2 separate regions of the Homo sapiens genome follow, and region 2 is linked to region 1. Evidence: fine-mapped expression QTL. A gene starts in region 1. The other region holds a variant in brackets. All regions are shown on one strand. Distances are between the middles of the regions. Region 1 holds the start of MIEN1 (migration and invasion enhancer 1). Region 2 has its middle 3.6 kb from the start of ERBB2.

Region 1 (5,370 bases):
AGGAGCTGCCCCTCAGCCCCACCCTCCTCCTGCCTTCAGCCCAGCCTTCGACAACCTCTATTACTGGGACCAGGACCCACCAGAGCGGGGGGCTCCACCCAGCACCTTCAAAGGGACACCTACGGCAGAGAACCCAGAGTACCTGGGTCTGGACGTGCCAGTGTGAACCAGAAGGCCAAGTCCGCAGAAGCCCTGATGTGTCCTCAGGGAGCAGGGAAGGCCTGACTTCTGCTGGCATCAAGAGGTGGGAGGGCCCTCCGACCACTTCCAGGGGAACCTGCCATGCCAGGAACCTGTCCTAAGGAACCTTCCTTCCTGCTTGAGTTCCCAGATGGCTGGAAGGGGTCCAGCCTCGTTGGAAGAGGAACAGCACTGGGGAGTCTTTGTGGATTCTGAGGCCCTGCCCAATGAGACTCTAGGGTCCAGTGGATGCCACAGCCCAGCTTGGCCCTTTCCTTCCAGATCCTGGGTACTGAAAGCCTTAGGGAAGCTGGCCTGAGAGGGGAAGCGGCCCTAAGGGAGTGTCTAAGAACAAAAGCGACCCATTCAGAGACTGTCCCTGAAACCTAGTACTGCCCCCCATGAGGAAGGAACAGCAATGGTGTCAGTATCCAGGCTTTGTACAGAGTGCTTTTCTGTTTAGTTTTTACTTTTTTTGTTTTGTTTTTTTAAAGATGAAATAAAGACCCAGGGGGAGAATGGGTGTTGTATGGGGAGGCAAGTGTGGGGGGTCCTTCTCCACACCCACTTTGTCCATTTGCAAATATATTTTGGAAAACAGCTAGGCACCGGCCTATGTCTGGGGGTGGCTCTGTGCCATCCCTTCCTGCTCACCTTACACTCAATTCCTCTTTTCCTGGAGGGAGTGGCTGGGAATCTTCAGAAAGCTTGGATGAGGAGCCAGACATCCAGTTCTCCAGCTTCAGGGTTGGGGGAGATCGGGAAGCTGGATTCAGATCTGAGAGCCCTTTGACGACCAGATCATTCTTATTTAGAACGAACTAATTCCTAAGGCCACTCACCAGAATGGGGTTATTTCCTCCTTGTGAGTGAGGAGAGTGGTGGGTAGGGTGGGGGAAAGACGAGGCAGGGTCTACTGTGGGACTCATTTTCCTTGCCTTGGCTATGCCAGAGGAGCTCACTGACCTAAGGAGTAGCTGTCCAGAAAGCCCACCCAGCCAGCACAGCCACCCTGGCGGTGCAAAGGCTGGGCTGACCGGACTTCTGTGCCCCCCACATTCCCAGACTGGACGTATAAAAACACACACTAGTTAGCATTAGTGTTTGTAGCGCCACTTTACTGCCAATAGCTGACATTGCCCTGGGTTAGGGGAGAATAAATAAAATCTGTGGCATCAGACAGGTATTACCGAGGCGAAGAGTGGACTGGGCTTTCGTGGGCACTTACCCTGGGAAGGGGGTATGAGGTGGCTGGAGAAGTGTTCATGGAGAGTGTCTCTCTCCTGCCCCCAAGGCCACGGAATCTTCTATTCCTTCTTTGTACCCAAAGGGCAAAGTGGAGGCCAGGGTCTCTTTGCTAAGGAGCTAAGTAGGGGAAAGAGGCAGGGGGAGCTCCCAGCAGGACCAAAGGGAGACCAAGGTTTGGACCCCAGAACAGAGCAGGAACCCAGAGTCCTGTGCAGTCACAGGATGACGCAGGGAGGACGGCTGTTGGTGATCTTTTCTAGGGTTTCTCCATTACTGGCTCTTCGGATGGCCTCAATGAGCTAGAGGAGTGGAATGACAGGATGATGCACTGTTGGGGTAGGGTGACCAAGAGGTCCTCCCAACGCTGTAAATACTCACATCTTTCTCATAGGGAAAGCCCCCATTCTCCAGCTTGGAGAACACCAGCTGTCCATTTATCTCTATCTCAAAGGCACCTGGTAAGAAATCAACAGATAAATGGTACACTGAGAACATAGGCAGAAGTCAGGAGTTCCTCCAAAGGGGTCCCCCGCCTTCAAGTCCCCCATCAATCCCACTGGAGACCCATTTGTAGCTCCTTAAGCAATTCCCCAACCCTGGGTCAACTCCAGGGAACCTGAGGGAGGCCTCGCCTGTGTGCCCCTCGCAACACTCAATAAAGGACTCCCTCCCCTCCAACCCTACACGATTGCAGTCTAATAGGTTTTTCCCCACAGGCCTCTGTGACACCCCCTGACCTATGGAAGGGAACTCATGTTGGCCGGACATTTTACCATGTGCCAGGCACTGCGGGCACTTTACATAAAGCAGCCAATGTCAGAACTAGAAAGCGGGAGAGCTGGGATTCAGAGCACAGACTGACCCAGCAGGTGTTCTGCGAGCCTCACCTGTGCCCCCGAGGCGCGACTCGATCTCGATGCCCGGATACTGCTCCTTCACAGCACTGGCCAGCTCCAGGTAGGTCGCCTCGAAGCCGCAGGGTTCACTGGGGAGTCAAGAGATGGGGCTGGGCTGGGGATTCGGGGGTGGGGCCTCCCGTGGACCCACCTCCGTCCGGCCCGCGGGACCAGGGTGCGGGTCCTCCAGCCGGGGCCGCTCACCAGTACTCCACCACGATGCGGACCCCACTGCCCGGCTCGACCTCCTCGGGAGGGGGCGCTACGGACGTCTGCCCCGGCTCCCCGCTCATCGCGGCCGGCTCCGCTCGGGCCCCTGCTTCCGGGTGTGACGCGAACCGCGGGCACGTGACGGGGCGGGGCCTCTGGAGCGGGGAGGGGCCGAGGGTGGCGTTCGGGCGCCCCCTGCGGGTCTCCGCCACTGCTACGTTTTGACCTCGTAGGGCAGCTCCGGAGCTCGCTCCCCGGGCAGGGGCTGGGTCCGGTCCAGACCCTCCTTCCCTGGCCCGGTCTCCCGGAGTGCCGGGCTTCCCCACTCCCCACTCCCGGTGTCCGCTGGACTTCATGGCTTCATTTACTCTAATGGACTATCTTAGACTGCAAAGCGCTTTTCAGTTTACAAAAGAAAGAGAAAGTGGTGGGGCAAGCATCCTGGGGATGGGGGTGGGTGTGGCTGATGCATGAAATAGTTGACATTTTCTCGCTAACATGCCGATGGCATTTTTTTTTTTTTTTTTTTTGAGACGGAGTTTCGCTCTTGTTGCCCAGGCTGGAGTGCAATGGCGCGATCTCGGTTCACTGCAACCTCTGCCTCCCGGGTTCAAGCGATTCTTCTGCCTCAGCTTCCCGAGTAGCTGGGACTACAGGCGCGTGCCACCGCACCCGGTTAATTTTGTATTCTTAGTAGAGACAGGGTTTCATCATGTTGGTCAGGCTGGTCTCGAACTCTTGACCTCAGGTGATCCACCAGCCTCGGCCTCCTAAAGTGCTGGAATTACAGACATGAGCCACCGCGCCTGGCCCAGTTTTTTGTTTGTTTGTTTGTTTGTTTTAGTAGAGACAGGGTTTCACCATGTTCGCCAGACTGGTCTCGAACTCCTGACCTCAAATGATCTGCCTGCCTTGGCCTCCCAAAGTGCTGGGATTACAGGCGTGAGCCACCACGCCCGGTGCTGATGGCATTTGGAACCACCCTGTAGTTACATACACAAGTGTTTCTGATCCCAAAGCTCTAAACTGCTTTTTCCAGTCTTTTGCAGCTGCTTCTTGCCTGCACTGGAAAACAGTAGATGCTCTTCAGGCTCTGTGCCCCCAACAGTTTCTGCGCATCCCTTCTCATCCAGCCTCTCACTGGGGGGCTGGCGTCATTATTCCCATTTTGCAGCTCTGGAAATGGAGTCTGCACAAGTCCTCGCTGCCTTTTCCCTGCCTACAGTACCACTATGGTATCCTAACACGCCACCCACTCTAGTGTCCCTTTAGGCTATTTATTTATTTATTTATTTATTTTGAGATGGAGTCTCACTCTGTCACCCAAGCTTGAGTGCAGTGGCGCGATCTTGGCTCACTGCAACCTCCACCTCCTGGGTTCAGGCGATTCTCCTGCCTCAGTCTCCCTAGTAGCTGAGATCATAGGTGCCAGCCACCACGCCCAGCTAACTTTTGTATTACTATTATTATTATTTTTTTGAGACAGAGTCTTGCTCTGTTGGCCAGGCTGGAGTGCAATGGTGCGATCTCGGCTTACTGCAACCTCTGCCTTCCGGCCTCAAGTGAGTCTCCTGTCTCAGCCTCCTGAGCAGCTGGGATTACAGGTGCCCACCACCAAGCCAGCTAATTTTTCTATTTTTAGTACAGATGGGGTTTCACCATGTTGGCCAGGCTGGTCTCGAACTCCTGAAGTTGTGATCTGCCCATCTTGGCCTCCCAAAGTGCTGGGATTACAGGTGTGAACCACTGCACCCGGGCTCATTTTTTTTTTTTTTAAACCAGGCAGGTCGTAGTGGCTCACACCTGTAATCCCAGCGTTTTGGGAGGCCAAGGTGGGCGGATCACTTGACGCCAGGAGTTCAAGACCAGCCTGGCCAACTCGACAAAACCCTGTCTCTACTAAAAATACAAAAATTAGCTGGGTGTGGTGGCGCACCAGCTACTCCAGAGGCTGAGGCAGGAGAATCGCTTGAACCTGGGAGGTGGAGGTTGCAGTGAGCTGAGATCTCACCACTGCACTCCAGCCTGGGTGACAGAGTGAGACTGTGTTCCAAAAAAAAAAGAAAAGAAAAGAAAAGAAAGAAAATGCAGTGATTTGTACTGTTGCCTAACCATCACTACAATCCAGTTACAGAATGTTTCCGTCAACCTGATAAGTCCTTCCCACCTGTTTCTGGTCAATCCAGCTCCCAATTCCAGTCCTGTGCAACCACTGATCTGCTTTCTGTCTCTAACTTTGCCTTTTCTGGATGTTTCATATAAACAGAATAATACACTATGTGGCCTTTTGCTTCTGGTTCTTTCATTCAATATGTTTTTTGAAATGCGTTCATCCTGTAGCGTCTAGAGTAGTTTGTTCCTTTTCATTGCTGAGTCGTATTCCACTGTGTGGTTATGCCACATTTTTTTCTTAATTCACCAGCTGATGGATATTTAGGGTTCCAGTTTTTTTTGTCTTTTTTGAATAATGCTGCTACAAATGTTTAGGTGTCTTTGTATAGGTGTGTGTTTTCATTTCTCTTGGGTAGATTCCTAAGGGTAGAACTGCTGGGTCCTGTGTTTAATTTATGATTATCTTTTTTTTTTTTGAGACAGGGTCTCGCTCTGTTGCCCACGCTGGAATGCAGCAGTGCAAACATGGCTCACTGCAGCCTCGACCTGCTAAACTCAAGCTATCCTCTTGCCTCAGCCTCCTGAATAGCTGGGACGACAGACACGCACCACCATGCCCAGCTAATTTTTTTTTGTATTTTTTGTAGAGACAAGGTTTTGCCATTTTGCCCAGGCTAGCATTTAACATTTTAAGAAATGGCCAGACTGTTTTTCAAAGTTTTCC
Region 2 (5,370 bases), 34 kb before region 1:
TAATAATAATAATAGGGCTGGGTGTGGTGGCTCATGCCTGTAATCCCAGCACTTTGGGAGGCCAAGGTGGACAGATCACCTGAGGTCAGGAGTCTCAATTAAAAAATAAATAGGCCGGGCACAGTGGCTCATGCCCATAATCCCAGCACTTTGGGAGGCCGAGGTGGGCAGATCACCTGAGGTCAGGAGTTTGAGACCAGCCTGGCCAACACGGAGAAACGCTGCCTCTATCAAAAATACAAAAATTAGCTGGATGTGGTGGTGCATGCTATAATCCCAGTAATACCAGCTACTCGGAAGGCTGAGGCAGGAGAATCACTCGAATCCGGGACACGGAGGTTGCAGTGAGCCGACATCATGCCACTGCGCTCCAGCCTGGGTGACAGTGAGACTCTGTCTCAGAAAAAAAAAAAAAAAAAAAAAAAAAAAAAAAAAATATATATATATATATATATATATATATATATATATATATATGTGTGTATATATATATATATACACATATATATGTGTATATATATATACACACACACATATATATGTGTATATATAAAATAAAATAAATAATAATAAAACATTTACTTTGGCTGCTGTTGCTGCGGGGAGAATTGCAGGGTGTCAAAAGTAGCACTGGTGGAGGGGTAGTGATCAAAGTCTGGTGCTTTAGCCCAAAGGAGAAATGATAGAGACTCAGACTAGCTGGTGATGGAGGTAGAATAAGCATAAATGTATCAAAAAGAGGAGTTGATAGATCTTAAAGAATGATTGGATTTGAAGGGCAAAGGAAGAGAAGAATCAACCAGGTGGGTTCAGTGAATGAAACCATCAGAAACGAATTGTCCCCTGAAATCAAGACTTTGTGATTGCCATAGTTGTATGCTTCTCAAAGGTTCCTCGTCTCCTCTTCCTTGGACCAAAAGTCAGAGGCAAGAATGCCCTCATTCATACCCCAGTGGTCTATACCTCCAGCAGCAAGTCGAGTGAGCAAGTGATGTCCTGAAAGGCCCAGTGGATCAGTGGAATGAAGCGGGCAGGAAGACTTAGTGCTCCTGAAACAAGGAATCCAGAATCCAGGAGAAGGATGGCTCAGTGGGGCTTTCAAGGGACAAGTATGGGGGTTGAAGGGGTCACTGTCCCTATACCAAATCCGAAAATATTGTGACCAGGAACCATTCTGTCCAACTCTTCTATTTCAGGTGGCAAAGCAAAGCTATATTCAAGACCACATGCAAAGCTACTCCCTGAGCAAAGAGTCACAGATAAAACGGGGGCACCAGTAGAATGGCCAGGACAAACGCAGTGCAGCACAGAGACTCAGACCCTGGCAGCCATGCCTGCGCAGGCAGTGATGAGAGTGACATGTACTGTTGTGGACATGCACAAAAGTGAGGTGAGTCGCAGGACAGAAGAGTGCTTTTTGTTTCAGCAGAGCAGCCTGGGGAGAGATAAAAGCTACTCCTGGGGCCTGGGCCTGCATTCCTGAGATGTGGGTAAGAGGGGCCCAGGGTCAGAGTGTCTGGCAAGCTTGGCTCTGCCCCTTTGCTGTCCTGGAGACTAGGGCTAATCCTGGGCTCAGGGAGTGGCCTCCCCATGGTTAGGATACAAGTGCTCATCAAGGGCCACCCCTAGGAAGGACCAATTTTCCTATCAGAAGCTTCTAAGTTATCCTCCTTTGGCCCAAAGGGACACCTCAAGCCTACTCTGAGGAACTCTTTCCAATGAACTAATTCCTACAGTCACTTCCCCAGCAACCTGTGCCTCAGCCTCAAGGCACTGTGGGGTAGGCCTCAGTTTGTGGCCTGGACATCGGACTGTGGACCAGACGACTCCTCCCGATTTCTGTTTGTTTTCAGTCCTCTGACCCCAAGCTGGCTGGTGAAGTAGGTAGAGGGAGGAGACTTTGGTGCATGCATACACACACACACACACACACACACACACACACACACACACACACACACACACACGTCTCCTGTGCCCCCCAGTCTCCATGGCTGGTCAATGATTGACTGGCATTTCACAGGCCGCTGGTTGCAGCCCCAGCCTGTTGACTTAGAGGTCACCCTCGGAAGCTAGAGCCCTGTCCTGCCTCTTCAGTGTCAGTGGTCACTCCACTGCCCACAGGCTGGGGTCTTGGGCAAAACACACGCATCTGCCCTGATCTGAGTTTGCTGCCCTCTGTCCCGCAGTCAGCCCCACTCTGTTCCCACTCCCTCTCCCCAGCCCCCTAGCTAGACCCCTCTCACCAGCACCCCTTTCCCTTCCCTGAGGGTCCCCCTCGCTGTCTTTGTCCCTCAGACATCCTCTTTCCTGGGCTCTCCTGCCAGGCCCTGCTGGAGGGACAGTTAAGGAGGAAATCGAATCAGCAGCGCCCACCCCTGCCCCCCTTCCTCTCCTCTTGTCAGACACCAGACGAGGTTTTTTCCTCTGGCTTCCCAGCTCTGAATGGGCTCATTCTTTTTCAGAGGCTCGGCCCCTCTCGAGCCTCCTCCCCAGGGCGTGAGTTCTGACCCCAGCTCCTCCCCCCATCCCCACTCCAGCCCCCTCTCCAGCTTGCTCCACCCTCTCTACCGCCCACCGGGACTGGGCATTGTCTGCCAGTCCGGGTTTCTTCCTGGGATTTGGGATGCAGAGAGGATGGGTTTGCTTGGGCGGGGGGGTGGAGAGTGAAGGGGGGAAGCAGGATCTTTGTAGAGGGAGGGACCTACAGTTACCTGGACTTCTTTCCTCTGTCTCCCCTCTTGGTACCCTTGACTGGGGCTCTTGAGGGTAATGGGTGAAGCCAAATCTGCCATGGCTCAGTTCCCAGCTCAGCTCTGTGACCTTGGGAAAGTTCCTTTAGCTCGTGGAATCTCAAGGCTCAAGGTTCCTCTTCTGCAAAATGGGGAATGATAACACCTGCCTCCTCTGGAGTCTTGGGGACTCAGTGTTCTGAGGAACGTGGCTGTAGGTCAGAGTGGCACAGAGTAGGGTCCAATGAAGCATGGCGTCCACAGTAGCTTTCCTGACTGGACTAACCTTTCCGGACACAACAGCAGGGCAGGGGTGGGGC[C/T]TGGGGAGAAAGGACACCTCTAACCCTGATCCTAACATCCCGATGGCCTCTAAGGCTGCCTGCACACTCATCCAGGTGCAAGCCCTCCAAGGTGTGGTGTGATGAACCAGTGACTCCTGGAGCCAGGTCAGCGCATCCTCTTCCCGCAGGGCTGTAAGCTGCAGGACTGAGAGGCAGGTTGACCAGGTCCTGGGCTGGATGATGGGGTGAGAGTAAGGGGTCAGTTTTGATACATGCCCAACTTTTCTCTCTAGCCCTAAGACATCCTGGGCAAATTGCTTACCTCAGTTCCCCTGATCCTCACCCTAACCCTAACACCAGCTCAAGAGAAAATAGGGATATTGATGGCCATCCAGAAGGGCTGCTGTGTTCCATACACAGCAATATTTCTCGAATGTTTGTGACAGCGGTCCAAGGAATAAGTTAATTTTACATTATCACTCTGGATACCTGTACAAAACTCCACCTTATCCTTACTATATGAATGTGCTAGGGTTGTTTTTTTGTTTTGTTTTTTTTTTTTTTTTTTGAGACAGAGTTTCGCTCTTGTTGCCCAGGCTGGAGTACAATGGCGCGATCTTGGCTCACCGCAACCTCCGCTTCCCAGGTTCAAGCGATTCACCTGCCTCAGCCTTCCCGAGTAGCTGGGATTACAGGCATGCGCCACCATGCCCGGCTAATTTTGTGTTTTTAGTAGAGACAGGGTTTCTCCATGTTGGTCAGGCTGGTACCAAACTCCCGACCTCAGGTGATCCACCTGCCTTGGCCTCCCAAAGTGCTGCAATTACAGGCATGAGCCACCGCACCCAGCCGTGCTAGGGTCTTTTTCTGTTCAATTCCTTTCTCTCTCTTGCTCTCTTTCTTTCTTTCAATGGAGTCTTACTCTGTCACCCAGGCTGGAGTGCAGTGGCAAGATCTCAGCTCACTGCAACCTCTGCCCTCTGAGTTCAAGCAATTCTCCTGCCTCAGCCTCCCGAGTAGCTGGGATTACAGGTGCCTGCCACCACACCTAGTTAATTTTTGTACTTTTAGTAGAGATGGGGTTTTGTCATGTTGGCCAGGCTGGTCTCGAACTCCTGACCTCGTGATCTGCCTGTCTTGGCCTCCCAAAGTGCTGGGATTACAGGCATGAGCCGCCATACTCGGCCAACTTTGTATTACTTTCTTAAAGAGAGTTTCCCAAATTATATAAGCTTCAGGCCCCACAAAACCTAGATCTGCCCCAGTATAACTAAATCTGGGACCATTTATTGAGCAATTATTATGTGCCAAGTATTGCGCTGAGTGCTTCCAGAGCATTATCTCCTTTAACCCCAGCATAGTATGTCAGATGCTGTTTTACAGATGAGCCAACTGAGACCAGAGATGCTCAGTCACTTGCCCAAGGTGACATGACTGATATGGAATAGAGTCAAGATTTTTTTTTTTTTTTTTGACACGGAGTCTCACTCTGTCTCCCAGGCTGGAGTGCAGAGGCGCAATCTCAGCTCACTGCAAGCTCTGCCTCCCAGGTTCACGCCATTCTCCTGCCTCAGCCTCCTGAGTAGCTGGGACTACAGGCACCCGCCACCACACCTGGCTAATTTTTTGTATTTTTAGCAGAGACAGGGTTTCACCGTGTTAGCCAGGATGGTCTCGATCTCCTGACCTCGTGATCTGCCTGCCTCGGCCTCCCAAAGTGCTGGAATTACAGGTGTGAGCCACCGCGACTGGCCAGATTCAAGATTTGAACCCAGGTCCTCTTGGTCCCAGAGGCCCCTGTTTCTCAACTCCCTAGGATGGCATAGCAACCTGTCCCACAAGAGGTGCCTGCTTTAAGTGTGCTCAGCACATGGAAGCAAGTTTAGAAATGCAAGTGTATACCTGTAAAGAGGTGTGGGAGATGGGGGGGAGGGAAGAGAGAAAGAGATGCTGGTGTCCTTCATTCTCCAGTCCCTGATAGGTGCCTTTGATCCCTTCTTGACCAGTATAGCTGCATTCTTGGCTGGGGCATTCCAACTAGAACTGCCAAATTTAGCACATAAAAATAAGGAGGCCCAGTTAAATTTGAATTTCAGATAAACAATGAATAATTTGTTAGTATAAATATGTCCCATGCAATATCTTGTTGAAATTAAAAAAAAAAAAAAAAGTCTTCCTTCCATCCCCACCCCTACCACTAGGCCTAAGGAATAGGGTCAGGGGCTCCAAATAGAATGTGGTTGAGAAGTGGAATTAAGCAGGCTAATAGAAGGCAAGGGGCAAAGAAGAAACCTTGAATGCATTGGGTGCTGGGTGCCTCCTTAAATAAGCAAGAAGGGTGCATTTTGAAGAATTGA

Evidence for each region. PIP is the estimated chance that this variant, and not a neighbour inherited with it, causes the effect. A credible set is the group of variants that fine-mapping cannot tell apart.
Region 2: its variant is the best candidate, but not a certain one, in a credible set for the expression of MIEN1 in whole blood (INTERVAL, PIP 0.52).

What each region holds. Positions count from the first base shown.
Region 1 is chr17:39,727,879-39,733,248 of GRCh38, forward strand. MIEN1 (migration and invasion enhancer 1) reads right to left here and starts at 2,654. Exons shown (of 4, transcript NM_032339.5): 1 at 2,529-2,654; 2 at 2,316-2,413; 3 at 1,807-1,883; 4 at 632-1,727. The coding sequence starts at 2,617. The coding sequence ends at 1,644. ERBB2 (erb-b2 receptor tyrosine kinase 2) reads left to right here. Exons shown (of 27, transcript NM_004448.4): 27 at 1-780. The coding sequence ends at 166. RefSeq lists a silencer at 2,336-2,895.
Region 2 is chr17:39,693,792-39,699,161 of GRCh38, forward strand. It overlaps a transcript of ERBB2 not described here. Among named protein-coding and RNA genes, the nearest start is that of ERBB2, 3.6 kb to the right of the region's middle. RefSeq lists a silencer at 2,365-2,659. The variant C/T (reference allele first, on the strand shown) is at 3,053.